Homo sapiens: one gene and its partners. The main gene of each other region encodes a partner of the protein of the gene in region 3 in a complex. Each region holds a gene or a part of one and is shown on either strand. Other genes may lie near its edges. The genes, in order: GINS2, CDC45, MCM3 and GINS4.

What was found.
Region 1: MCM3 (region 3) and GINS2 share a complex: the UniProt entries of both Homo sapiens proteins name them as parts of the CMG helicase complex.
Region 2: MCM3 (region 3) and CDC45 share a complex: the UniProt entries of both Homo sapiens proteins name them as parts of the CMG helicase complex.
Region 4: MCM3 (region 3) and GINS4 share a complex: the UniProt entries of both Homo sapiens proteins name them as parts of the CMG helicase complex.

The regions. Positions count from the first base shown.
Region 1 is NC_000016.10:85,685,955-85,693,446, forward strand, and holds the start of GINS2 (DNA replication complex GINS protein PSF2), read right to left. Parts: upstream 3,001-7,492; 5' UTR 2,945-3,000; coding exon 2,855-2,944; intron 1,621-2,854; coding exon 1,506-1,620; intron 1-1,505. UniProt on the Homo sapiens protein: Required for correct functioning of the GINS complex, a complex that plays an essential role in the initiation of DNA replication, and progression of DNA replication forks.
Region 2 is NC_000022.11:19,503,886-19,510,919, reverse strand, and holds part of CDC45 (cell division control protein 45 homolog), read right to left. Parts: intron 5,559-7,034; coding exon 5,439-5,558; intron 3,535-5,438; coding exon 3,403-3,534; intron 3,155-3,402; coding exon 3,056-3,154; intron 2,391-3,055; coding exon 2,229-2,390; intron 1-2,228. UniProt on the Homo sapiens protein: Required for initiation of chromosomal DNA replication. Core component of CDC45-MCM-GINS (CMG) helicase, the molecular machine that unwinds template DNA during replication, and around which the replisome is built.
Region 3 is NC_000006.12:52,274,726-52,281,759, forward strand, and holds part of MCM3 (DNA replication licensing factor MCM3), read right to left. Parts: intron 6,950-7,034; exon of another isoform or gene 6,828-6,949; coding exon of another isoform or gene 6,816-6,827; intron 4,875-6,815; coding exon 4,636-4,874; intron 4,126-4,635; coding exon 4,017-4,125; intron 2,964-4,016; coding exon 2,810-2,963; intron 2,474-2,809; coding exon 2,342-2,473; intron 1,752-2,341; coding exon 1,543-1,751; intron 1-1,542. UniProt on the Homo sapiens protein: Acts as a component of the MCM2-7 complex (MCM complex) which is the replicative helicase essential for 'once per cell cycle' DNA replication initiation and elongation in eukaryotic cells.
Region 4 is NC_000008.11:41,539,228-41,545,531, reverse strand, and holds the end of GINS4 (DNA replication complex GINS protein SLD5), read right to left. Parts: intron 5,855-6,304; coding exon 5,757-5,854; intron 5,617-5,756; coding exon 5,528-5,616; intron 3,724-5,527; coding exon 3,633-3,723; intron 3,542-3,632; coding exon 3,445-3,541; 3' UTR 502-3,444; downstream 1-501. UniProt on the Homo sapiens protein: Required for correct functioning of the GINS complex, a complex that plays an essential role in the initiation of DNA replication, and progression of DNA replication forks.

The DNA of each region.
Region 1 (7,492 bases), on a different chromosome or scaffold from region 3:
AATTCTATATGTATGACCATACCCCTCTCCTCACCAACACACACAAAAAAATTAAGATTTTTTTTCCCTATAATAAGCTACTCATATCTCCAAGAGAAGAAAAAGATTTCAAAGGCTCAGAATAAAGCCTGTCTGCATCTTTGATTTGTTTCAGTTTTTTCTAGCAGCTTTATTGAAGCATAATTAATATATCATACAATTCAGCCATTTAAAGTATACAAGTTTTGAGGTGGGTGGATCACGAGGTCAGGAGATTGAGACCAACCTGGCTAACACGGTGAAACCCAGTCTCTACTAAAAATACAAAAACAAAATTAGCCGAGCGTGGTAGCGGGCGCCTGTAGTCCCAGCTACTTGGGAGGCTGACGCGGGAGAATGGTGTGAACCCAGGAGGTGGAGCTTGCAGTGAGCCGAGATCGCACCACTGCACTCCAGCCTGGGCGACAGAGCGAGACTCTGTCTCAAAAAAAAAAAAAAAGTATACAAGTTTTAGTAGCACTTGTGGGCTATTAAAAACAAAGTGTACAAGTCAATGGTGTTTAGTATATTCAGACTTGGGCAACCATTACCTCCATCAATCCCAATTTTCATCATGCCAAAAAGAAACTCCACAATCCCTCCATCACCCAAAGCAAGACCCCCATACTTAAGCAACTACTAATCTACATTGTCTCTATTGATTTGCCTATTCTAGACAGTTGATAGAAATGGAATGATACAGTGTGCGGCCTTTTGTGCCTGGTTTCTTTCATTCAGCAAGATCTTTAAGATGTTTCAGGTTCATCCACGCAGTAGCATGTATCAGAATTCCATTCCTTTTTATAGCTGAATAATATTCAACCTTATTGTGATATATTATTTTCATGCATTCTCTATAACTGCTTCTCAACATGCTAATCTATACTTATTTTTAAAATTTTAAAACAAATGCTTATTTAAGGTCATATATTTATTTTAAAGCAAATTGAAATATCTTACATTAAAATATAGGCTGGGCACAGTGGCTCACGCCTATAATCCCAGCAGATCTGCCAAGGTGGCCAGATCGCTTGACCCCAGGAGTTTGAGACCAGCCTGGGCAGCATGGCAAGACCCCATCTCTACAAAAACGCAAAAATTTGCAGGGTGTGGTGGCGCACGCCAGTGGTCCCAGCTACTTGGGAGGCTGAGGCAGGAGGATCACTTGAACCCAGGAGGTGAAGGCTGCATTGAGCCGAGATTGCACCACTGCTCTCCAGCCTGGGTGATGGAGTCAGACCCGTCTCAAAAAACAAACTACAACTTTCACACACACCAAAACCTAACATGACATTACTAACAGTGGTTAGCAGACTCTGCTGAGAGGTGAATCTGGAAGTATTCCTTTCAGCTGATCAGTAGATAACGGAACAGAGGGAGCACGGACCTAGTCAGGAAGGAGGCCCCATGCCTCCACCCCGTGGGAGAGGGCGTCACCCCAAGCCCAGCCCCACCCACGCATCAACCAGTCTCCACCACATCCTTACCTACATCCATCCACTCTGGAGGGAGCAGGCGACATTTCTGTCTTTGTTTCAGGTTAATCGCCAGCCACAGGGGCACTTCCACGGGTAAACCAGGGTTAAAAGGCCCCAGGTCCCCCTGCCAAAAGTAAAACAATTCCCCGTAAGATTGAAAAAGAACAAAAAAAGCATTACTGTGCGTTACTGCTATCAAATAAGAGGCAAGGCATTGCAGAGGCTGAAGTCCAAATGCAAATAATAAAAACCCAACTGTTACCAGACTCAGAACAAAGCGCCTCCTGAGCGGCTCCGAGACACCTGCGAGCGTGGGGCTCAGTCCTTCTGGCCTTTCCGCGGACAGGATGCAAGTCTCCCCTGAGTGGGTGGGGGGCGCTCCCTCTCCCGCCTGCACCCTCCAACTCCGGAACAGGTTTCACACACCCAATGTTGGGGTCCTGGGGTGCGGGGAGGTGGGTCTGGGCAGGTACAGAGCCTGCCCTCCTTCTCCAGGACTCCCAGCGCCGAGGCGCCTCCCTCATACTGAAAACGCAAAGCCGGGCGGGCGCGGGGGCTCACAATCCAGCTACTCGGGAGGCTGAGGCAGGAGAATCACCTGAACCCGGGAGGCGGAGGCCGCAGTGAGCCGAGATCGCGCCACTGCATTCCCGCCCGGGCGATAGAGCGAAACTCCATCTCAAAGATAAAGACAAAAACAAACAGAGGCAAAGCCGACTTTTGCCCATAATCCCAGCCCTTTGGGAGGCCGACGTGGGAGGATCGCCTGGGGAGCCCAGGAGTTCGAGGCCAGCCGCATCTCTACCAAATAAATAAGCCGGGCGCAGTGGCTCCCGCCTGTCATCCCAGCACTTTGGGAGGCCGAGGCGAGTGGCTCATGAGGTCAGGAGTTCGAGACCAGCCTGGCCAACACGGTGAAACCACATCTCTACCAAAAATACAAAAATGCGCCGGGCGTGGTGGCGGGCACCTGTAACAGCAGCTACTCAGGAGGCTGAGGCAGGAGAATCGCTTGAACCCGGGAGGCGGAGGCTGCAGTGAGCCGAGACGGCACCACTGCACTCCAGCCTGGGCGACAGAGTGACACTCCACCTCAAAAACCAAAAAACAAACCAAAAAAGCCCCCAAACAGATCAAAAAAACCCTGTAAACCCGGGCGTTCGGGGCACTGGCAAAGAGCGCAGTCTCGCTTTCCTCATCCGAGAAGCGGGAACGGCGGTGAGCGAGTCAAGCGCCGAGTGGTGGCCTCCGCAGATGCGGGAGCAGGGCGAGCCCGCGACCCCGGGGCTGAAGGCCACGCGGGAGCCCCGGACGCGCCCAGCCCGGCCTCCCCTCCCCACGGCGGGCCCAGGCCTCACCCCGATGAGGTAGATCTTGTCCAGACTGAAGTTGGGGATAATGGTAACCAGCTCCTTCTCGGCGAGGAATTCGACCTCGGCAGCGTCCATGGCGGCGCGAGCTGCAGGCCAGAGCCTCACGGTCTCCTCGGGCCCCTCAGCGTCCCGGAGGAGACGCCGCGGCCGCCGTTTTCCCGCCACGGCGAGAGCCCGCCCCGGCCGGAAGACGGCCTGCGCCAGCCTATAGGAAGGCGGTAGACAGCCTATAGGCGCTGTCTGCGGGCGGGGGGGCGGAGACCGCGCTCGCGAAGAGCCCGCGGATTGGCAAGGCCGAGGGAGGCTGCGCGCCGGCCCCGCCCCGGCCCGCGGACAGGCCCCGCCCCCACCCCGGCCCCGCCCCGCCCGTGGGCGTGCACCTGGCGCTGTCAGGATCTCCTGCCGCGGGCGCCAGCTTTGGTGTCCCTTCACCTGTCCCCGGCGCCCGCCGCAAACGGCCCTAATCAAGAGCCGGGGGTGGGGTTCCGGGCCGCTTCTACGCCGGCGTTCCGCATGGGGCCAAGAGTAAACGCATTTATTTTATTTTAATTTTTAAACAACTTTTCGTGGATTTGGGATCTTGCTGTGTTGCTCAGGCTGGTCTTGAACTTCCGGTCTCCAGCGATCCTCCCATCTCGACTTCCCAAAGTGCTGGGATTACAGGTGGGAGCCATCGTGCCAGGCCAAGAGTACAAGCATTTATTGGCCCAAACTCAGCACCGGGCCCGGGACTAGGCATCACCCGGGCTGACAGATAGAGGGATGAGGGAAGACCTTGTTTCCATTAATTTCACAATCTTCTGCCCTCTCTGCACACATTGTTTAAAACAGCTGTAAAAATGCAGATTCCTCCATCCCACCCCACAGCTTCCAATTCGGACACTTCAGAGCAGGAGCTCAGAATTTGCACTTCGGCAGGAGCCCCACATGAGACAGGAGCGGCAGGTTTGCACCACCTGAGCAAATACTCACCTGCTCGCTGGACCGGCTGCCCCTGTACAGTGGGCGCAGGTGAAGCCAGAGCGGTGGCTGGAGCTCACCTGTGTCAGAATCCCCTAGCGGGTGCCCATTGTCTGTGTGCACGCTCCTGGGAGTTGGGATTCCGGAGTCGTGGAAAGGACAGAAAGCTGAATTTCATCCAGGGCCAGGTGATTTTGATGGGGTGGTCATGGCCGGAAAAGCTTCCTGGGGGTGAAGCGCTATTCTAGGACTGCAGTCGAATTTGAAACCTTGATAATTAGGCCCGCGAGAAAAATCACAGGAGACATGAGGATTCCAGGGTTTGGAATTCCAGCAGAAAGCACCCCCTGCCCCCGCCCCAGCTAACCGGATGCTCTCCTCTCCAACCTCCCTGAAGCCCCATAGAGGGTCACTGGGAAGGTGAAAAAAAGCCGTAAAGCTCACAGGCCTGCTCACAAAGCTGTGTCTGTTGTGTATCTGCCTTAGAAGTTGTTATTTACAGATCTGGAGTTTTCGCTGAGTTACTTTCATGTGTGAAGACACATACTCTTGGCCAGGCACGCCTGTAATCCCAGCACTTTGGGAGGCCGAGGCAGAAGGATCACTTGAGGCCAGGAGTTTGAGATCAGCCTAGGCAACATGCCAAGACCCCATCTCTATTAAAAAAAAATAAAAACAAAAGAGAAAAGACAGATATGCTCGAAGAGAAGAAATCAAAGGTCACTCTGGATGCTATGTGACCAAGGGCAAGTGACAACTCTGAACCCCTGTCTCTTTATCTTCAAAATGAAGTAGGAAGAGAAGGAGCCTGCAGTGTTCAGGGAGGAGGGGGAGCTGTGGGCCATCTGGCCCCTCCCACAGTAGAAGCTCCCTCAGGCAGCTGCAGACGTGTGTGCCAGACTGTCCGGGTTTTGACTGATGAGGGAATGTTTTCTTCACTGGCAAATATTTGTGTTCCAAAGCTGACGAGGGTTTGCGTCCTGATTTGTCCAGCCTATAAAAGAGCAAAGGAAAAGATGAGAAAGCTGAGGTTCAGAGAGGCTGCTGAGGGATGGGTAGGAGGGCTACCAGAGCCTGGCTGTCCACATCACAGAGCCTCGGCATCCTTATCTGTAAAATGGGGACAGGGCTGCTGTTAGCCTCACTGGGCTTTGGAAAGAACAGGATGGGAAAGTGTGCAGCTTTACAGATTGCAGAAGGGTGGTGTCCTGATGCCTCAAGCCTGAGTGTGTGAGAATCACTTGGTAGGCTTGTGTCTTCCCCTTCATGGCAGCACGATTCATAATAGTCAAAATGTGGAAACAGCCCAGTGGCCACCAACTGACGTCTGGACAAACAAAATGGTGCCTATTCATACGATGGAGTAGTATTTGGCTACAAATCATAATGAAGTCCTGGTACACACTACAACGTGGATGAACCTCAAAACCGTGATGCCAGTGGCGGCTCACACCAGTAATCCCAGCACTTTGGGAGGCTGAGGTGGGAGGATCACTTGAGCCCAGGAGTTCGAAACCAGCCTAGGCAACATAGTGAGAGACCATCTCTACATTAAAAAAACAAAAAAGGAGTGGGGGGTGGCACGGTGGCTCACGCTTGTAATCCCAGCACTTTGGAAGGCCGAGGCGGGAGGATCACGAGGTCAGGAGTTCAAGACCAGCCTGGCCAATATGGTGAAACCCTGCCTCTACTAAAAATGCAAAAATTAGCCAGGTGTGGTGGCACACACCTGTAGTCCTAGCTACTCGGGAGGCTGAGGCAGGAGAATCACCTGAACCTGGGAGGTAGAGGTTTCAGTGAGCCGAGATTGTGCCACTGCACTCCAGCCTGGGTGACAGAGCAAGACTCTGTCTCAAAAAAAAAAAAAAAAAAAAAAAAAATTAGCCCAGCACAGTGACACAGACACACACCTGTAGTCCCAGCTACTAAGGAGGCTGAGGTGAAAGGATTGCTTCAGCCCGGGAGGTGGAGGCTGCAGTGAACCATGATTGCACCACTGTACTCCAGCTTGGATGACAGAGCGAGACTCAGTCTCAAACAAAAAAAAAGTTATGCTAAGTGAAATAAGCCAGACACAAAAGTCCACATATTATATGGTTCCATTTCCATGAAATGTCCAAAATAGGTAGATCCATAGAAACAGAAAGTGAATTAGTGGTTGCCAGGGACTGGAGGAGGGGGAATGAGGAGTTAGGGGGTACAAGGTTTCTTTCTGGGGTGACAGAAATATTCTGGAATTAGATAGCGGTGATGATTGCACAAATCTGTAAATATACTAAAAACCACTGAATTGTACACTTTAAAAGGGGGAATTTTACAGTATGTGAATTATGCCTCAATAAAGCCATTTTATTTGTTTGTTTGTTTGTTAATTTTTGAGACAGGGTCTGTCACCCAGACTAGAATGCAGTGGTATAATCTCAGCTCACTGCAGCCTCTGCCTCCTAGGCTCAAATGATCCTCCCACCTCATCCTCCCAAGTAGCTGGGACTACAGGTGTGCCACCCCACCCAGCTAATTTTTGTATTTTTTGTTTTTGGTAGAGACAGGTTTTTGCCATGTTGCCCAGGCTGGTCTCAAACAACCCTTGGGCTCCAGCAATCCACCCACCTTGGCCTCCCAAAGTGCTGGGATTAGAGGCATGAACCACCACGCCCAACCTATAAAGCTGTTTTGAAAAATGCCCCTCTCTAAGCCCCAGGCTCAGACTTTCTGATTGACAAGTATGGGGTAGGCCCAGGTATACAGCACACTCAAGAAGCTCCCAAGAGGTTTTTATGATTGAGAATACCGGTGAAGTGATTTGCCCCAATCTGGTCCAGCTCTGAGCCACTCCCAGCACCCAGGTGAAGGCCAATCCTCCCACCTGGCCTCAGGGTGGGGGAACCAGAGTCAACAGACAGAAGGAAACCAAAGGGGAGGGGAAGAGGGCAGTGGTGGAGGTGGGGGTGCTGGACCTTCCAGCATCATTTTCTGTTCTGTAAAACGCCTCCCCTAGAAAGCTGGAATGATTCATCTGGAGATGAATTACGGTTGGAGACGTCAGTATGAACTCAAGTTTAGCTTAATGCAGGTGCCAGGGGATGCACACAGAAGTATTTTGTTTTGCATTTTATGTTTTATTTTAATTTACAATACTTACATGTATTTACTGGGTACAGTGATGTTTTGACACAGGTATACATTGTGGAACGGTCAAATCAGGTGAATTAACGTATCCATCAACTTAAATCCTTATTTTTATTTTTCTGTAGTAAGAATATTTAAAATATACTCTTTTAGCTATTTTGAATAGACAATACATGACTATTAACTGTAGTAACCATGATTTGCAATACATCTCCCGTCTTTTTTCTTTTTTTCTTTTTTTTTTTTTGAGACAGGATCTCACTGTTGCCCAGTCTGGAGGGCTGGAGTGCAGTGGCATGATCACGGCCCACTGTAGTCTTGACCTCCCAGGCTCAAGTGATCCTCCTGCTTCAGCCTCCTGAGTAGCTGGGACTACAATTCTGCACCACCATGCCTGGCCAATTTTTTTTTTTTTTTAGTAGAGATGAGGTTTCACTATGTTGCCTAGACTGGCCTCAAATTCCTGGGCTCAAGTGATCCTCTCACCTGGGCCTCCGAAAGTGCTGGGACTACAGTCATGAGCCATCGTGCCCG
Region 2 (7,034 bases), on a different chromosome or scaffold from region 3:
TGGAAACAAACCACATGCCCATCAACTTATGAATGGATAAATGAAATAGAATATATCCATCCAATGGAATATTATTTATAATAAAAAGACACTGGCCGGGCATGGTGGCTGATGCCTGTAATCCCAGCACTTTGGGAGGCCGAGGCAGGTGGATCAAGAGGTCAGGAGTTCAAGACCAGCCTGAACAACACGGTGAAACCCCGTCTCTATTAAAACTACAAAAATTAGCCAGGCTTGGTGGCATGCGTTTGTAATCCCAGCTACTCGGTAGGCTGAGGCAGGAGAATTGCTTGAACCCAGGAGGCGAAGGTTGCAGTGAGCCGAGAGCGTGCCACTGGACTACAGCCTGAGCGAGAGTGAGACTCTGTCTCAGGTGGCGGACGAGGGAAAAGACATATAATCCCGATACATCCTACAATATAGATGAGCCTTGCAAATATGATGCTAAGTGAAGAACCCGGTCACAAAGAACCATATCTTATATGATCCCATTTGTATGAAATGCTCAGAACAGCCAATTCATAAAGACAAAAGGGAGACTGGTGGTTGCCAGAGGCTGGGAGGATCTCTCTGGGGCAACAAAAATGCTCTAAAATTAGATAGTGGTGATTGCTGCACAACCTTGCAAAACCTAACTGCAACCTACTAAAAGTCATTGCAGGCTGGGCACAGTGGCTCATGCCTGTTCCTCCCAGCACTTTGGGAGGCTGAGGTGAAAGGATTGCTTGAGCCTAGGAATTTGAGACCAGTCTGGGCCACATAGTGATACATCTTTACAAAAATTTTTAAAATTAGCAAGGCGTGGTGGCATGCACCTGTTGTCCCAGCTACTCAAGAGGCTGAGGTAGGAAGATTGCTTGAGACTGGGAGGTCAAGGCTGCTGTGAGCTATGATCATGCCATTGCATTCCACCCTGGGCAACAGAGCGAGACCCTGTCTCTAAAAAAATAACAATAAAATAAATAAAAGCCATCACATTGTACATTTTAAATGGGTGAATTGTATGGCATGCAAATTGTATCTCAATAAAGCAGTGGAAAAAAAAGTGTGCTTGGGAGCAGAACCAGGAAATCCCAGAAAGCAGGCCCCCATATATACATATGCATCTTTACCACTGCACAAAAGCAACAGAAGTGGCAGCTCTGTGAAGCCAGAAAAGCTGTCTGAATCATGCCTCCTCCTCCTAAAAAGTCAGGGAAATGAAATTTATACATAAAAAGCATGAGAGAAGTAGCAAAGTCAAATCCCCTCAAAGTCACTATTAGAAAAAAAGAGAATAAGGGACAGAATAACACCTCTCTGGATAATGAAAGTACACTAATGTGAAAGTTGCAGATCCCAGGATGAAATCACTTTTTGACAGGCCCAAACAAATTAAAGCTGGGAAAGCACCAAGGAGAGCTCCTGCTTGCATGTCTGGAATAAAGACTCAAAGACTTTCTAAATAACCCCACAAGAAATCCCTTCTTTAGGACTGCAACAATTCAGATAAGATGCTCTTAAAATATAACACTTGCCCAGTAATGCATCTTCACCACTGAACTGACGCCAACTCTGGCTCTGAGTCTCTGAAACCAATGAATTGTTTCCAAGCTAGCTTTCGTGAACTTCTCCTTTTGCCAATAAAAGTGTCCCCTTAGCCTCCTCTCTTTGGATGCATATTTGGCTTGCCATAGCTGTGCATCGCAGACACTATAATCCTCTTTTCTAATTCCCAAATAAATTCAGTGTATTTGGAGATATTTTTCTCTGATGTCTTTAGTCTGACACTAGACAGACATGCTAAAAAAAAGATCCAAATTGTCACATTCCATTTCAAAACAAGCGAAAAGACATGGAAAAATATAGGACATCTCAGGAAGTGAGATAAGAAAGAATTGGAAAATTAAAAAATTGAGAAATGACAACTATAAGATTAAACACAAGAACGAATATACATAACAAATAATGCCTTTTGTTAAGAGATACAAAAGGTAAAAAAAGAGAAAATTTTAAAAATCAAAAAGAAAAAAAAGCCAAAAAAGATTCAAGAGAAAGTGACAAATACTGAAGAGGGGCAGGTAATGTGTCAGGTGCACACCACACTGGCACTGTGATTCCAGTTCACCCAAGCAGTTTCTGCAGGACACAGTCACTCCCACAGCCCTGGGGTCCCCGTAACTGACCTCCCTGGGCAGTGTGAGAACCAGTGGTGGCCCCATGAGGCAAACCCACAGCCCTCCTGCTACCTGGAGAGGCTGTCCAGAGCCTGGATGAAGTGATCTGTCCCTGAGCCATCCTTCTCGGGGCTCTCCATCAAAGACATGGTGGCAAAGACCACGTCGCTGGCCAGAAACTTGTGCTTGAACCCAAAATGAATGCTGAAAGTCTGCACGCGCATGTCCTTCATCCTGTCATGGGAGCAAACACAGCTGTCACCCTCAAATTGTGGGCAAGCTCTCACTGCCAGGCAGGCCAACAGATGTGCTAATGTCCCTCACAGGCCCAAGTCAATGCTTCCAGCACAGCCATGCTGCTCAGAGGATGAGGCAGGTCAGAACGTCCAGACATACCAGCCCTGCAGCCCAGAGTGGCCGGGTGCCTTCTTGTCAACAGCTTTATGGCTGGCTTAGGGGGTGTGTGGGGTCCTCTCTCACACCTTAGCATGCCAGCTGGCTGGGGTGGGAGAAGCCAGGGGCCTCCAGGAGTGCCCATGGACTTGGTCGGGCAGAGTTCACCTGAACCTGGCCCTGTGGCCCATTTGCTGTCTCCAGTGAAACAGACTGGGGTCGACCTCACAGGTCCCACAGCAGCCCTAGGATCCAAGGATCCTAGGATCCTAAACCTCACAAGCTTGAAGAAGTCTTATTTTTAACCCAAAAAGAACTCAAGACTTCAGGAATGGCCAGACTCAGATAACACTCATTTGTACATTCTCGGGTTGTTGTTTTTTTTGCATTATTTTAGGAGCACGTTGGTTTTTTTTGCATTATTTTAGGAGCACAGTTAAAGTAGAACCCTTCACTTTAATGAACCTGGATGTAATGAAGATAAATCCAGAAAAATGTGTGTTTACCCAAATTTATTTGCAGACTCTTCAATCATTTCCCGCAAATTCTCCTTCAAGGAGATGTCCATGGCCTGGAACTTCTGCTTCACCTGCTTCAGGGGAAGACTGGAAAGAGCAAGCCCAAGCCACATGAGTGAGGTCACCACACACCGACAGGGTGGAAAGAAACCCAAACCAAGGGCAAGCGAGGATGTCCCCGCACCAGCATTCAGAAGATATTCTGGGATCTAGGGCAAGGAGCTTATGGCAGAACAGGCTGCATTTTATAACTAAGTTGGTCACAACAAAGCAGAGGGGCTTTTCCCTTGGGGGTGGCCAGGGCTGGCACTGCAGAGGCCCAGGCAGTCACTCACCCCATGTCTGCAAGGAACTCCTGGAGCCGCTTCTGTCCATGCACAGACCACAGCTTGAACCTGGCTGCGGTATAGCTGGTGTTGCACAGGCTGTCATGGAGGGACCAGTGCTGGTAGAGCACCAGGCGGAGGCTGGGCCTGCAGTCAAGGAGCATGCAAGCACCCACTGGCCGCCCTGAGCACTCTCGTAACTCCAGCAGGTGGGCCACTCTGATGGCGGGGCCCTTTCTCACCAGGCCTGCCTGCAAAACCAGGTATCCCAAGAGTGACCTGGAGCCCTTTGACCTTCTTAGCTTAAGCTGACCCATACAGAGAGCCTGTGAAGTGACAGGCATAGACCACCATCCGTCTGACAGGCAGAGAATCTGGAGCACAGGGGTCTGCAAAGTCCAGGTGCTGTGGTCACATGGAGCAGTCATGGCCACACATGACGTAGGAGGCTGGGCGTCACCAGCTTGTCGTCCTGCACCTCCTGCTCCACCTAGCCCAGCCCTCCCTACAACCCATTCCTCCGGAGAGCCCTCCACTGGGACCCCATCCACGAAGCGCCCCCATCCTCAGCCCTTTTTTCGTTTTTTTTTTTTGAGACGGAGTCTCGCTCTGTCGCCCAGGCTGGAGTGCAGTGGCACGATCTCGGCTCGCTGCAAGCTCCACCTTCTGGATTCACGCCATTCTCCTGCCTCAGCCTCCCGAATAGCTGGGACTATAGGCACCCGCCACCATGCCTGGCTGATTTTTTGTATTTTTCGTAGAAACGAGGTTTCACCGTGTTAGCCAGGATGGTCTCGATCTCCTGACCTCATGATCCACTTGCCTTGGCCTCCCAGAGTGCTGGGATTACAGGCGTGAGCCACAGCGCCCGACCTCCTCAGCCCTTTTCTTAAACATATCCATCACTGCCCCTGGCACCGTGAGCGCAGTTGTGAGTGTGGACTGTCCCCCACGGTGGATTTCCCCTCTACAGGACGAGAGCCTGGTCCTGCCTGCTTCCTCGGCATGCTCAGTTCCCACCACTGCCCCTCCCAACTCCTGGGAACTCCCAGGCCTTCAGACCACCATGCTCCCTGCCCACACTCCAGCAGCTTCCTCAAGCCCCAGCATCCTCAGCTCCCTGACTCCCTCCCTCCTGTCTCAGTCACACACTCCCATGGTCCCTGGGTAAGTGAGCCCACCCTGCCACGCACATGATGGGACCAGCTCCAGTGCACAGCGGCTCCCCTCCCCAGGAGTTCAGCCAGCTCCACCCCGCTCCCCAGGCTCCGATGGCCACCTGACTACTGACGTGTCCACCCTCACTCTTCCTCCTTCCCAGCCATCACAGTGCAGAGACAGGGCAGCTCCGTCCCTGACATCATGCTATCTGACTGCTTACAGCCACTGCTGCAGTTTGGGCCAAGCCACTATTGTGTGGCCTTGGAAAGCAGTGACCATCTCCTTGCCCCCAACCTACCTCTACTGGGCAGCCAAGGGACCTTTTAAAAACCCTGACTCAAACTCTGGTCACTCCACAGCCTCCCGCTGCCCTTGGCTCACAAGGCTTGCTCTGGCCTCCTGACACCTGACCCCAGCCAGTCCCCCAGCCCCTCCTGTGCTCAGTACAGCAGCTGCCACACTGAGTGTGGCTGAGACTGTGTGAGATGTGGTCTCCCCATGGTCTTTTCTGAGCACTCCACCAATGTCCCATGTGCTTCTCAAAAGACACGTCACGCTGTGTGATTACATGGCAGCTGCCTTCTTTCCTGACTGCGTGAACCACTGCCCGCACTGCTACCATGTCCAGAGCCAGGCCCACAATAAGCACTTTACAGGGATGTGCTGGAGAAGGGTGATACTTCCAAACTCAGCTCTGGCATTTAGAAGCCAAAGCCACACAGATGAGCTGGGGTAGCACACCACAGCCCCTTCCCCCAAAACTTCCTGCCCCACCTGCTTTCCCTCCTGGGGATGTGGCCAGAACCCACAGAGGGTGACAAAGCAAACAAGGCCTGCTGAGCAGGGGTGCTGCCTGTGCCCCTCAGGCTGGGCCACAAGGATACTCATACTCAAAGGAGATCCGTGTGCAGTCCACGGAGAGTGTGTTCTCCTCATCCTCGTTCCGGTGGTTGTGGCGGGAAACGTGGCGCTGCAGGACACCAACATCAGTCACGTATTTCATTCTGGAAAAAAAAGTAGCACAAGCCTCGGCTGGTTCCCTCCAGCTCTTACCAGGCAGCCTAAGCCTAGGCTCCATTCCCGCTCAAGGCCTTCCTCAGGGGCCTGCTCACCACAGGAGCTGTTCCCATGCAGGGACTAAGGACATGCAGCCTGCATAGAAACCAAGCACCCAGGAAAACATGATTGGATGGAGCGGGGGGGTGTGGTCTCTAGCCTTGTCCACCTCCGGTCCTCATGGGTCTCACACCTCCTGAGAATGGGCACCGCAGAGGCCACAGCCCATACAGCCAAGATGACAGACTCCGTAAGTGACAGGGATCCACAGCAGAGTGGGTGAAATGTTCCCTATAAACTTTACAAAATTAATGAGGGCAGGGGGAGGGGAGAAATGAAAATGAACCCAGCTCGCAGCACATCAGCATCAGTCACTAGGTCGGCGTGCTCTCTGACTGCTTCCTCGTAGCTGCTTGGTGTCTCATTGCCTCAGAAGCATGTAGACCCTGTCACAAGATTGTAGTTCCCCTAACTGCTCCGTAGATCACAACTTGAACCTTAGGAAATGCTGTTTTCCCTTTGAGATATTCCTTTGGGTCCTGTATACTGATGGAGCTACTGACTGAGCTGCTCCGAAGGACCCCACGAGGAGCTGACTAAACCAAGAGTGCAGTTTGTACACCCTGATGATTACATCCCCCTTGCCCCACCAATCAACTCTCCCAATTTTCCAGCCCCTCACCCTCCAGTCCCCTTAAAAGCCCCAGCCCAGGCCGGGCACAGTGGCTCATGCCTGTAATCCCAGCACTTTGGGAGGCCAAGGTGGGCAGATCACCTGAGGGCAGGAATTTGAGACCAGCCTGACCAACATGAAGAAACCCCGTCTCTATTACAAATACAAAATTAGCCGGGCGTGTTGCTGCATACTGGTAATCCCAGCTACTTGGGAGGGTGAGGCAGGAGAATCACTTGAATCTGGGAGGCGGAGGTTGCGATGAGCCGAGACAGCGCCATTGCACTGCAGCCTGGGCAACAAGAGCAAAACTCCATCTCAAAAACAAACAAACAAACAAAACCAAAAAAGCCCAGCCCAGAACTCCTCAAGGAGATGGATTTGAGGATCTCCTCCCATCTTCTCACTCGGTGCCCTGCAATCATGAAACTCTTCCTCTGCTGCAAACTCTGCTGTCTCAGTGTAACAAGTCTGTTACTGCACAGCAGGCATACAAACCTGCTGGTCCTATAACACATTATGGTGAGTCTAGCCTCGAGCCCCTTGTGGGCATTTGCTTGCCTGCGGCTTGGTGCGCCTTCGCTGTTCAGTGGGAAGGACCCAGAGACAAGCCCAAAGCCCAAGCGGCCACTGGGTTCCATTGAACTATATGGGCTGCCACCCGTGCCCTGCCTGTTGACAGGGCAATGTCAACCTTTGGTGCATAGACTGCTCGCAGCAAAGCAAGTTTCTGGTTTTGAAAGGCATCTTA
Region 3 (7,034 bases):
GGATTCAAAAACCCCAATACTCTCCTTTCAATTCTGGGCCTACTGGACTGATACTTACCCATCCACATACACTTCACAGTCAGAGAACATAACAACCTTTAGGTAATAATGATTTTGACCATGTTCACGTTTCAGGTCCTGCCATTTTTCTTGTATTTCCCAATCACTCTTGAGAATGACATAAACATACATTATCATTTATTTTATTTTATTTTACTTTTAAAGATGAGGTCTCACTATATTGCCTAGGTTGGTCTCAAACTCCTAGGCTCAAGTGATCCTCCCACCTCAGCCTCCCAAAGTGCTAGGATTACAGGCATGAGACACTGCGCCCAGCCCTATCATTAATTTTAAAAGCTATGGTTTTCAACCTTGGCTACACATTAAAACCAAACCTGTGGAGCCCTTCTAAACCATAGCTACCAAGAGCTCCAACTCAAGAGATTTTAATTCAGAAACTCTGAACGGGGGACCATGCAACTGTATGTATAAAAAACACCATCGCATCGCAACAAGGTGTTCCCATACACTGTGGGATTGATTATAAACTGCCAGGACACAGCATGAGCTCTGGGCTCAAATCCTGGCTCTGCGATTTTCAAGTTTGTGGCTCTTGAGCAAGTTACATAATCTTTTGTACCTCCATTTTCTCATCTGTAAAATAAAGATAACTACACATTGTGAGGTAGTTACTGATAGGATAAAAGGAGTTGGTAAATACAAAGCATTTATGAGCATTCATTAATAGAAGTATTAATATGGTACAATCTTTAAAGAGGGTAATTTTGCAATCTCTACCAAAAGAAAAATGCACATAACTCTTAATCCAGTAATTTCCTTGCTAGGTATTTATACTACAGATATATTCCCAAATCTATCCACACACATAAAGGGATGGCCACTACAGCTTCATTCAAAATAGGGAGGAAAAAATGGAAACCACTAAATACCCATCAGATGGAGACTAGTTAAATACATCCCTGTGACGGAATACTAGAAATCTATTTTTTTAAAAGGAAAAACTCAACAAACCCCACGCACAGACAAATATAAAAGATTATATCTAGCACATCACAGTCATGGTAAAAACAGAGATAATTCTTAACAAGGAAATAGTGTATTTGCTGGTACATGCTTAAAGTTTTGTTTCCTGCAACACTTCAAAGCTGTTATTTCTTGGCAAAGTGACAGGAGAGAGAAGCAAGTCTTTTCGTTTTCATACTATATACCTGTTCTGTTTAGAAATTCTCCCGCCACATGCATGTAGTCCTTTTATTTAATGGACGGTTAAATATGTTAAATGGACTGTTTAACTGTACTGTTAAAAAGTTACTTTTAAATAAGGAACTTTCCAGGGGATTCTGCTGTGCAGGAATGGGTGAGGAACACTGCTCTAAACAAAGGACAATAACAAGAAAATGGCCTTACTTTTAGTCTTTGGCCTATTATTCCCCTGGGTCACCTAGAATACACTTCTCAGCCCAGTTAGTCAGCAAAACCAAATGAAGGTGAGGACAATGGTTGGGGCCTGATTCCACTTACCCTGCCGTAGACAGGGTTGGCAGCTGCCAAAACACTGCAGCGGGCATTCAGCCGAGCATGGATGCCAGCCTTGGCAATGGTCACTCGACCCTGCTCCATCACTTCATGGATGGCTGTGCGATCCATGTCAGACATTTTGTCAAATTCATCAATGCAAACCACGCCTCGGTCAGCCAGGACCATGGCCCCTGCTTCCAGACGGCGCTCTCCTGGGAAGTGAGAAGGTAAAAATACGTGCTACAGTCTAGGTTATAGGGGCCAGAAGGGAAGGATTTCAATCTCCTTCCTAGGAATCTCTCACTTTGCACGTGAGAATGCGGCAATGGTGTGTTGGCTCCGAGAAACTTAGAGGAAACCCTGGTGGGTCACCTTTTCAGCTCTAATCTAAATATTAATAGTATCTCTTTGTCCCACTTTGACCCCTAAGTAACTAGCTTCTCACAAATTTCCTTCATAGATTCTCTCTTCGGCCTCAACCTCAAGTAATACCCCAACTAGACCTCTGCCTTCTCTTCACTGGTCTCCAAATCCCTTCCTCTAGTTCATAAAATAGTACAATCTTCATTTTTATTTCCTTTCTAATGTGCTAAGACTTAATCCTTTAAATCGAAAACATTCCTGTAAATAGATGAACACCAAAGACTTAAATAATTCACCCACCATTGCTGAATACTCAGTCCTCTATAATCTGGACCCAACTAACCTATCAGCTGTATCTTCAGAACACAAGCCAGGGCACACAAAGGATCTATGCTCAGGCTCTCTGCTGGGCCTTTGCCAAGGACCCTTACACCCTTACCTGTTTCCTGGTCTGTGGTGACAGCAGCCGTCAGACCCACTCCAGAGGAGCCCCGGCCAGTGGTGGGGATAGCTCGGGGTGCAGTGCAAAGCACATACCGCAGAAGCTGAGACTTGGCAACGGATGGGTCTCCTGTAGGGTGGGGGCAGTGATGACTCTCTAGGAAACTCCCCAGCACCCCCAGCAAATTCTGCCTTTCTAGCACAGCTCTTGACACAACAGAGTCACACAGTAAGTGGATTTTAATATTTTTCCTTCGCTTTTCCCTTCACCACTCACGGAAGAATATTTATATACTATAAATCAGGAATTCCAGAGATGACAAAAAAAAAAAAGATTCATTTTAGCCTTTTGTCCTTTGATAGGACTGAAATACTGCTAAGTACAGAATATACAATCTTACATATTATAGGTCTCCACAACCACTCCATCAGAACAACAGTCTAAAGCAAATCCCCAACATCGTACCTATTAGAAGAATATTGATGTCCCCACGGATGTGGCTGCCATTTTCTAGGTCTCGTTCCACCCCTCCCAAGAGCAAGCAGAGGATTGCTTTCTTGACATAGTCATGCCCATGGATACTTGGGGCCAATGACTTGGCCAGCTGGTCAAAGATATCCTACAGGAGAAATAACCAATGGCAAGCCTAGTGAGATTCAATGGGACTTTGTGGAGCTCCACTTTATATACTTTGGCCTATAGAAAATACTTGAAGAGGGCCAGGCGCAGTGGCTCAGGTCTGTAATCCTAGCACTTTGGGAGGCCGAGGCAGGCAGATCACGAGGTCAGGAGTTCGAGACCAGCCTGGCCAACATGGTGAAACCCCATCTCTACTAAAAATACAAAAAATTAGCCAGGCGTGGTGGTGTGCGCCTGTAATCCCAGCTACTTGGGAGGCTGAGGCAGGAGAATCACTTAAACCCAAGAGGCGGAGGTTGCAGTGAGCAGAGATCGCACCATTGCACTCCAGCCTCGGTCACAGAGCAAGATTCCGTCTCACCAAAAAAAAAAAAAAAAAAAAAAAAAAAGAAAATACTTGAAGAAACACACAAACAGGTACATTGTTCCTAACTGCAAAAAATTATTTTCTAAGACAAATTACACTATCAGGCCATTATCAGAGTAGGCACAGAGCAGCCTGGATTCCAAAACTTGTTTAGAGGTTTAATCTTTAAGGGAAAAAAGTATCCCCAGGTTCAAAACATTTTAGGTTTAATAAGAACATGTACTGTGCTTGAACAGTAACCTTTATCATCACACATTCATATATGTAGTTCAATTCTAAATGTGGATATACATCCTATCTTAAAAAGATAAAAACAAGTTGGAGAACTAAAACAAAGAAAAAATGTTTAAGTAGTAATGCATCACTAACGCCTTCAGTAATAAATAGACTTACTGGTACACGGGCAAGTTAACACCTATCCTAATATTTGTACTAGGCTCATTTAGCAGCCCAGCAGGTAGCAGGTATTAAAATTGTTTAATAACAACAGAATTACTAAAGAACAAACAGCAAAAACACCCTTCATTTGTTGATTGAGACAAAAATAGAAAAAGCTAACACCAAACCTCAACCCTTCCTTCTGATCTAGTACAAAAATAGCCATGCACCAAAACACAACTCTTAGAAATCCATTCCCACCCTCAAATTTCTAAAGGATGCCCAGACCTTGGATCGGGTTTTACTGAACTTCTTGATCTTGGCTATATCCTCAGCAGAGAAAGAGGGCTGAGCATCCTTGCTCATCTGCTTAACATTACAGGCAATCAGGACAGTCCTGGGACAAACAGAATAAAGAGGAAACCCGTTATATTCAATTCCTAACATCAGTAGCTAGTACCCCTAGCAGGAGTAAGCCTTTTTAGGCTGCCAAACTAGACCAGCCAATTAGAGTTGGTGGGGAGGGGGCAGGTAGCTATTGTGAATTAAACAACTGGTTCTGTCTGTGATCCAAATATGCTGATCATGCCCCACCTCTGGAATTGACCCACAGAACTTCAGACAGAACTGTGTATGGGGACGAAGTGTAATTAAATGAGAAACTCCCAGGAAAGCCATGAGGCTGTAATCATTGTCACCAATAACTCTCATTTTTGGCATATGATGGTTAAGTATCACCAGCTTTATCTGATAGAAAAGAGGTATTGAAGGTATCCTGTCTCCCAGGCAGGTAGAGTGCTCCACCTATCAGATATAACTCTCTGGAATATGGCAAACTGGAGAAAGGATATTACCAGAAATGGAAGCTGTCAACAGCATTCCATATACTTTAAGGCAGACCCTTTACCTGAAGGTCCCAGAGGTGTAGCCTCCCTTCTTTCCAGGAAGGCAACGGTAGGTTCCCACCACCTGAACCCGGTCACCAGGCTTCGCTTTATCCACCAAGTCATCATCCAGAATGACGTCCACAGAGCGGGGGAGCTGGCCGGCTGGGGCCTTCTCCGGCATCTCCTGGATGGTGATGGTCTGGTGATCCTTGTAGACAGAAAGGCCATATTCTGTCTCAAGGGGATTGTTCTCCTCATCCTAGAAAAAGGCACACAGAGGGACAGAGTGATCTCCGTCCTGTCTTAAAAATGCCACACTCACCTGTCATGGCAAATAAGATGACTTCATAAAATTTTATTATTCAGTAACAAAAAAAGCCAAGTACCTTCTCTAGCTTTTTGTGTTCCTGTCTGTTTTAGTAACAACCATCGAATGGAAGGGGCAACCCATAGTCTGAATGGACTATGGTTATATTAACATCTAAATTAAGATTCTTACTTCCCCTCTAAAGCTGAATATATGCTTACATTCTGAAGCAGTTTTTCCACTCCTAGGTAATACCCAACAGAAACATTCACCCAAAGCCATGCATTGTAATGCTCATAGCAACATTATGCCTAGTAGTCAAAAATTTTAAAGTGTAAAAATGCCATCAATAGTGTAATGGTTAAACACGGTATATTCACATAAATGAATACTATACAGCAATAAAAATGTATGAAACACACCTATACACAACATGGATAAATCTCATAAACACAATGTTGAGCATAAAAAGCCCATAAGTATTTAAATAAAAAACAGCTGAAAGTAATCCATACTGTTAGACATCAGGATAGTGGTTACCCCTAGGTAACATGAGCCCTCAAGAGGGACTTCTGTGTGCTAATATTTCCTCATTTGGAGCTGGTTACACAGGTGTACTCAGCTTGTAAAAATTCATCAAGCTATACACTTATGTGAGCTTTCCTGTACGTATATTAAAGTTTTACTTCCTTCACATTTGAATTTTCTAAAAACACAGTTGTCACTTATTGAGTGTTTGCTATGTGCCAGGCACTGTGCTATTACTTCACAAAATTATCTCATGTAATTATCACAACAACTTTGTAAAGAAGGTATTTTCACACGTCATGCACAAGGAAACCAGGAGACTAGGAGAGATTAAGTAAGTTCCCCCAGGTCACACAGTTAAGTAGCAGAGTCTTGACTTGATACAGGTGTTAACTCCAAAGCCCACGCTCTTAAGCATCACCATAGACAACCTCCAGAAGATCTGGTCCAATGTATTTCACTTTTCAAGTAAAGAAGCTTGGCCACAGTAATCAACAGAAGAGTACTTCCCAAGTACTTCCTGAAGAGGAAATTCTAAAAAAGTGGAGATCTTAAGGTCCGAAGAAGACAACAGAATGACTTAGAAAATACAACTGGCATGAATTAAAGAGACACAGGTCCTAGTCCTTAAGGCCATCACTAACTGGGACCGTAAGCAAATTGTTTAACTTCTCTGATCTCAGCATTTCATCTGGAGGTAGACTAAATGATGCTAAAGTATGTTTAAGTTATAATTCTAAGATATTCATTCGTTTTTGTTTATGTTTCATTTCTCCACCACTGTGAAGACTAATGACGAGGACTGGGTCTTATTTATATCCTTGTCCTCCATAGCGCCTAATAGTGCTTTGAATACAGTAGTTCTCAATTAAAATTTGATGAGGGGAGGAGAGGAATTGTTTGATAGAATCAGTTCAGACATCAAGTAATCCATATAAATGATCTTTTGTCTCCAGAGGAAAACCTTGCATTGTCCTCAATCCAGATCAATCTGAACACCAAGAAGAAAGCATTTTCCTATGCCAACCTGCTCCCAAACCCGCAACAAAATATTTGTAAAGATTACATAACAGTCTAGCATTATTTTTCTACTTTTTAAAAAGCAGATTCTAAAATTATAACGTTGTTAAAACATCTATGTAGATGACTTCTTCTTTTGACTATTCCTTAATTTTCTAAAATGAACAAGTGTTTTCTTAAAAAAATAATAAGAGTTGTGGCTGGGCATGGTGGTTCATGTCTGTAATCTCAATACTTTGGAAGATGGAAGCAGGAGGATCACTTGAGGCCACGACTTCCAGTCCAGCCTGGGCAACATAGCGAGACCCTGTCTCTAGAAAAAAGTGAAAAAAAAAATTAGCGGACCTGGTGGTGCATGCCTATAATCCCAGGTACTCAGGAGGCTAAGGTGAGAAGATTCGTTGAGTCCAGGAGTTTCAGGCTGCAGTGTTCTATAATGGCACCACTGCACTCCAGCCTGAGAGAGACAGATCCCGTCTCTAAAAAAAAAAATAAGAATTGTGAAGCCAGGTGGCGTAGCACATGCCTGCAATCCCAACTACTTGGGAGGATCACTTGAGCCCC
Region 4 (6,304 bases), on a different chromosome or scaffold from region 3:
GGTGTGCACCTGTAATCCCAGCTACTTGGGAGGCTGAGGCAGGAGAATCGCTTGAACCCAGGAGGCGGAGGTTGCAGTGAGCTGAGATTGTACCACTGTACTCCAGCCAGGGCGACATGTCAAAAAAACAAAACAAAACCAAAGCACTCTGCAAGCTTCCTGGCTAACTCTTGTACATTGCAGCAGGGGAAGTTTGATGCCTCTGAGGGCGATGCCAAAGCCAGGCGGGCTGCTGGGGTGTGAGCATGGAGTAAATGCAGCAAGGTCACAGATGACGGATGATGACTGCGGTGGGAAAACCCACATAGCGGCCTGCAAGCACGTCTCAGGAAGAGCTGTCTTGCTAGGGGCAAACTTACGGTAAAGGATGACGCCATCATTTGATAAAATGTTCTGTCATGCTTTTAGTGGCGAGTTTTTAACAATAAAGCAAAACACTCACCATGAACCAAATGTTAAAATCAATGTCAACCAAGTCACATCATTTCCTGTTCCACTTGGTTTTGAAATTCAACTTCTCCTTTATTTAAAAATGACATCAAAACCAGTCTTCTCTTGAAGAGGTAATTTAGGAAATGGAGCAATTTACTGTGGTTTTAGAGGATGTAAAGTGCTCCGTGCAGTTGGACATGTACAGGGCAGCAGCTGGAGGCATGAGGACGTAGAGCCGTCATTCAATGTGGTCCCCGGGCCAGCAGCAACTGCACAACATGGGAGCTCCTTAGAAAGGCAGGATCCTGGACCTCACCCTGTTTCAGAACCTACATCTTTTTTTTTTTTAATTTGCAAAAATTTATTCATATACAAATGTGCAATATCAATAAAATGACCAAACAGGTTTGTTCTTGAAACATTTTCAATTGAATGGGAATTAAATGCTTTTGAAAAGTGACAAAATGATCATACAGTGAAGTTGTCTCTTTCTTTATATAACAAGCATAAATCAAGTACTAACTCTTGATTTTACTCTGAATTAACCATGACATACTAAATGAACTTGGGCTTCAGGCAGAACCTACATCTTAAGGCGAGCTCCAGGCGATGGGTATGCACATTAAGGCTTAGGAAGCACACTGTTCTAGGTTAACAGCTCAGGTCTCTGGGCTTAGCACTACAGGGAGAACGTGACTAGGAAGTGCAGACTTGGGTTCTGATCTCAGGCTTACCACTAAATATCTGCTGTTTCCCACAGCCCTGCCCGCTTCTCAGGACTGTGGGGGACCAAATGGGATCCTTATTAACAAGGTCCTGTAAGATCTGGGTCCAGCCTGCCTCAGACCTTATCATGTAATACTTTCTATTTTGAGTTGGGCTTTCTAACCAGGCTGACCTCAAGTAGAGTTTGTTTCTGCCTCAGGGCCTTTGCACAGGCTGTTTTCTCTGCCTGGAACACCCTCCCTTTTGACCTCTGCACTGCAGCTGCCTCCTGTTAATCAGATCTCAGCCTAAATGTTGTCTCTCCAGTGAGACCCTCCAGGGACTGCACGAGTATCAAATACCTTTGTCAAGAAATAAAACCTCCCCAGGCCGTGCGCAGTGGCTCACGCCTATAATTCCAGCACTTTGGGAGGCCGAGGTGGGTGGATCACCTGGGGTCAGGAGCTCGAGACCAGCTTGGCCAACATCATGAAACCCCATCTCTACTAAAAATACAAAAAATTAGTTGGGTGTGGTGGTGTGCACCTATAATACCAGCTACTCGGGAGGCTGGGGCAGGAGAATCTCTTGAACCCAGGAGGTGGAGGCTGCAGTGAGCCGTGTTCACACCACTGCCACTCCAGCCTGGGTAACAAGAGGGAAACTCCGTCTCAAAAAAGAAAAAAAAAAAAGACCTCCCTTGCTTTCCCCTACTGATTTCTCTTGGAAATGACAGCAATGTTACCCTGATTACTCTCGCAGCCCATACCCTGCAAATGGAAATCTGCCAACTTCAACCAGGAAGAAAAGACTGGAATGCAGGTTGCTTTTTATAGCATTTCAAGGAAAGATCATTCATTCACTGCCTATACATCCTTCCTTCCGGCATCACTGTGAGACTCTGCATGCACATTAATTTCATCCATTCCTCTTGAAAAAGTGAAGGACTTAAACCAGAAAAGCGGCCACAGGTCACAATACAAGATGGTTAACGTCACTCCGTTAACAGTGCCTTGGCCAAGGACAGCCAGATGGCCCGGAGGCTGACTTGGCAAAGCTGCTGGAGAGTTGGGGAGGGCTGCGGGTTAACAGCAGGGAGCACATACTTCATTAAACTACAAGCCGGGAGCCGTCCAGAGGTGCCTTCTGCTGCAGAATGGAAATTTAATAATGGTTTATTGGTTTAGTTGTGATTTTCAATTAAGCACGACAGAAATTGGTTTTAAGTCCAATATTAGAGGTTCTAAAATGTTAGTTTACACAGTCTAATGATGTATGACGGGAGAAGGCCACAGCTGTTTTCTTTAATCTATTTACAATCTTCGCAGCAGAAAGGCTAAATGAACTCTCCTACCATTATCAGGTCAGGGCTAAATGCAGCCCCGATCACAGGCAGTGATGCCTTCTTATGAACTACTTCTGCCTGACTTTCCTTAGCTCAGAAAATACTACAAAGGGAAAAGGCGTGCTGAGAGCCTCTGCTGCTCCGCCAAGTGTGCAGAACAAACAGTACAATGGCCCCATCTACTGACACGGGCTAAAACAGCAGACAGGACATGCAGCAACACAAGCAATCCTGCCTCGAGCTCCGCTTCACGCCCGTGACCCACAGCACTGCTGAGGAATGTCTGATGCCTAGTAAACTACTTTATTATTGTCCTCAGGCACAACGTGATACGAGGGGTTTCTAGTATTTTCTCTACGGTTCCAGGTCTTCATTCTTGTTTACGCCTAGTGTGTTTTTTTTGGAAATGGAGTCTCGCTCTGTCGCCCAGGCTAGAGTGCAATGGCACGATCTTGGCTCACTGCAAGCTCCACCTCCCGGGTTCACACCATTCTCCTGCCTCAGCCTCCTGAGTAGATGGGCCCGCCACCATGCCTGGCTAATTTTTTGTATTTTTAGTAGAGATGGGTTTAGTAGAGATGGGGTTTAGTAGCCAGGATGGTCTTGATCTCCTGACCTCATGAGTTTATGCCTAGTTTGTTTTTTTTTTGTTTTTTGTTTTTTTTTTTGAGACAAAGTCTCACTGTCACCCAGGCTGGAGTGCAATGGCACGACCTCGGCTCACTGCAACCTCCTGCTCCCAGGTTCAAGCGATTCTCCTGCCCCGGCCTCCTGAGTAGCTGGGATTACAGGTGCACACCACCAACACCCGGCTAATTATTTTGTATTTTTAGTAAAGATGGGGTTTCACCATGTTGGTCGGTTGGTCTCGAACTCCTGACCTCATGATCCGCCCGCCTCGGCCTCCCAAAGTGCTGGGATTACAGGCTTGAGTCACCATGCCTGGCTGTTTATGCCTAGTTTTAAATTAGCTGGACAGCTCCAGATGCAACCAGAGGTGCAATGGTTTTGTATCGGATCAAGTGCTGTGAGCCCTTCTCCAGGTCAATCACGTAGTCCCTGAAAAAGAGGGAAACACATTTGCCTGCAGAGCTCGGCTGGCCCTCCATCGGGAGGAATGTGCCCACTGTGAAAGATGCACGCCACTCACCTCTGCTCATCTGTGTCTGGTTCTACCAGTATGTTTTCTTGTCGTTCTCTCACTCTCAGAAACACGTAAGAATCTAGATCTGGTTTGGGAACTGCCAGGAAAACAACAATGTGATTAGGAAATCCTCGGCCAACAAAGTCAACAAAGTAAAAGTTGCTGGGAAGAATGGTATGGCACACTCAGGGTTTAGATAGGAGCCCAGCCCATTCCTACTCTTCAAAGATGCAGACAGAGTGGCTGACCAGGGAGGAAACCGGACACGCATTGGGCCTTTTGTTTTCCTCAGGCAGCCTCAGCAAAATGACCAATTCAGGGTTCCACAAGTCTGGTATGGGTCTGACTTGCTCCTGGTGTTATGGGCTACACTGTGTCCCTGCACAATTCATACGCTGAAGCCCTAACCCCCAGTATTTCAGCGTGGGATTGTATTCGGAAACAGGGCTTTTAAAGAGGCAATTAAGTGAAAGCGAGGCCAAGTAGTGTGGGCCCTAATCCAATCTGACTGGTGTCTTATAAGAAGAGAATAGGCCAGGCACAGTGGCTTATGCCTGTGATCTCAGCATTTTGAGAGGCTGAGGCTGGAGGATCAATTGAGGCCAGGAGTTTGACACCAGCCTACGCAACATGGCAAGATTCTGTCTCCACAAAAAAATTTTAAAAATAATAGCCAAGCATGGTGGCACATGCCTGTAGTTCCAGCTACTTGGGAAGCTGAGGTGGGAGGATCGCTTGAGCCCAGGAGTTCAAGGCTGCAGTGAGCTATGACAGCGTCAATCTACTCCAGCTGGGGCAACTGAGCAAGACCTTGTCTCAAAAAATAAAAAGCAAACAAAAAACAAAAATCAAAAGGTGGGGGGGAGGGAGGGGACTAGGACACACAGAGACTAGGATTAGTGATCTTATAAAAGTAGCCTGAGAGTCTGCTTGCCCCTTCCCTTCTCTGTGAGGACATATGGAAGGCGCCATCTATGAGGAACAGGCTCTTGGCAGACACTGAGTCTGTGGGGGCCTGGATCCTGGACTTCCCAGTCTCCATAACTGTGAGCAGCCCAAAGGGACTAAGACCCTGTTCCACCACCGCAGGGGTGGCTGTGTGGTCCCCAGCCCCAGCACAGGCTGGGCAGAGATGAATTTCCAGGGCTCGGGTGTACTGGAGCTCGTTTGATTTGGTATGGCAATTTTGCCTGAGGAGGTCTTGCTTGGATCTGGCGCACTGTGAAACACTGAGGAACATGGGCTTTATCCTGTAAGCCAGGGCCCCCGGTGGGTTGATCCGACGGTAAGGGCTCTGCCTATACCTCCCTTTCCTTGCTCGGCAGCCCTCAGGGGCTGGTGCGAAGAAGCCCGAGGAGGGGCTCCGGCCAAGCTCCCCTTCCCCGGCTCCCCTCCCTCCTCTCTCCACACCCTCCAACCTGCTCCCTCTTCTGAGGCCACAGGGACTCACTGGAGGTCTCCCTAGCCTCCTGTTTCAGCCCTCCCCTCCAGCTAGGCGAGCCCTGTGCATTCTGGGACCTGTGACGAAGAGATGGCCAGCCCCTCTAAGCAGGGGCAATGTTGGTGTAGGCTCTGCAGTGCTGGTACTCGGGGCTGCCAGCACCTCACAGAGGCTCAGCAGATGGCTACTGAAGGCGAACGCGGCTCCATGCCCGAGTCTACAAGCACCAGTGCAGTCATGGGGCTCAGCCCACCCCAGGGAACAAGGAAGCAATGCTCAAATGCCTACCATTGGATCTGCTTTCCGTGATTTTTTTGGTTTTTAGCTAGAATCCTTGCTCTTCTTTCTGTTTATCTACATACTTACTTTTTTGTATTTGGGTAAAAACAGTGAAGAGAGGATCCTACCCTGGGACACCTGAGGATGGGTGGGCCACCTGCAGGGAGAACGTCCTGTTTACCTGCCCGAAAGAGGTCCACCTTCTGTAAGTTAGGGGGCATGTGCTTCAAGGCGACATTTTTCAGATAGGACTCTGTGTTCGCCATGAACCTGAAAGACATGGATTCAAATCGCTGTGGTGTACACAGCTGATGGACGTCCAAGGTTAGCAGGCAGCAGCGCACAGGCCTCTAGGACAGGCCTCATGCTGAACCAGCCAGGTGCCCCACGCCAACGGCTCACTCACTCACTCTCTGGCAAAGGCCAACTCTTCCGGCGAGAGGCTGGAAGGCTCCCCCTCAGGACGTGTTTTTTCCTTCTCAAGGACATGAGGGAAAAACTTCTCTATCTGTGAGGATAAAGCAAAATCTTCATGAAAACATTGGCAAAAGTCAAAGAGAAGGATGTGGTTAACATAAAGAGGGTTTACACAACCCTCCCGAGGAAGGACATGTGGCCTGGAGGTGGGATAGGGTGGGTGGAGAGACACACCATAAGACACAGGACAACGTCTCTGAGACACCCTTGCAGGCAAGCTATGGACCTGGGGCTAGGGGACGGCTTGGATTGGGAGACTCCTAAGTGGCTGAAAAAAGAATGCTGACTCAATGGGTAGATGTCAAACTGTAGGGAAGTCTTTTGTGAAAGACCCTTGCCACAGTCCAATTAATAATCACATAAGGTTTTTTTTTTTTTTTTTTTTTTTTGAGATGGAGTCTCATTGTGTTGTCCAGGCTGGAATGCAGTGGTGTGATCTCAGCTCACTGCAACCTCCAACTCTCGGGTTCAAGTGATTCTC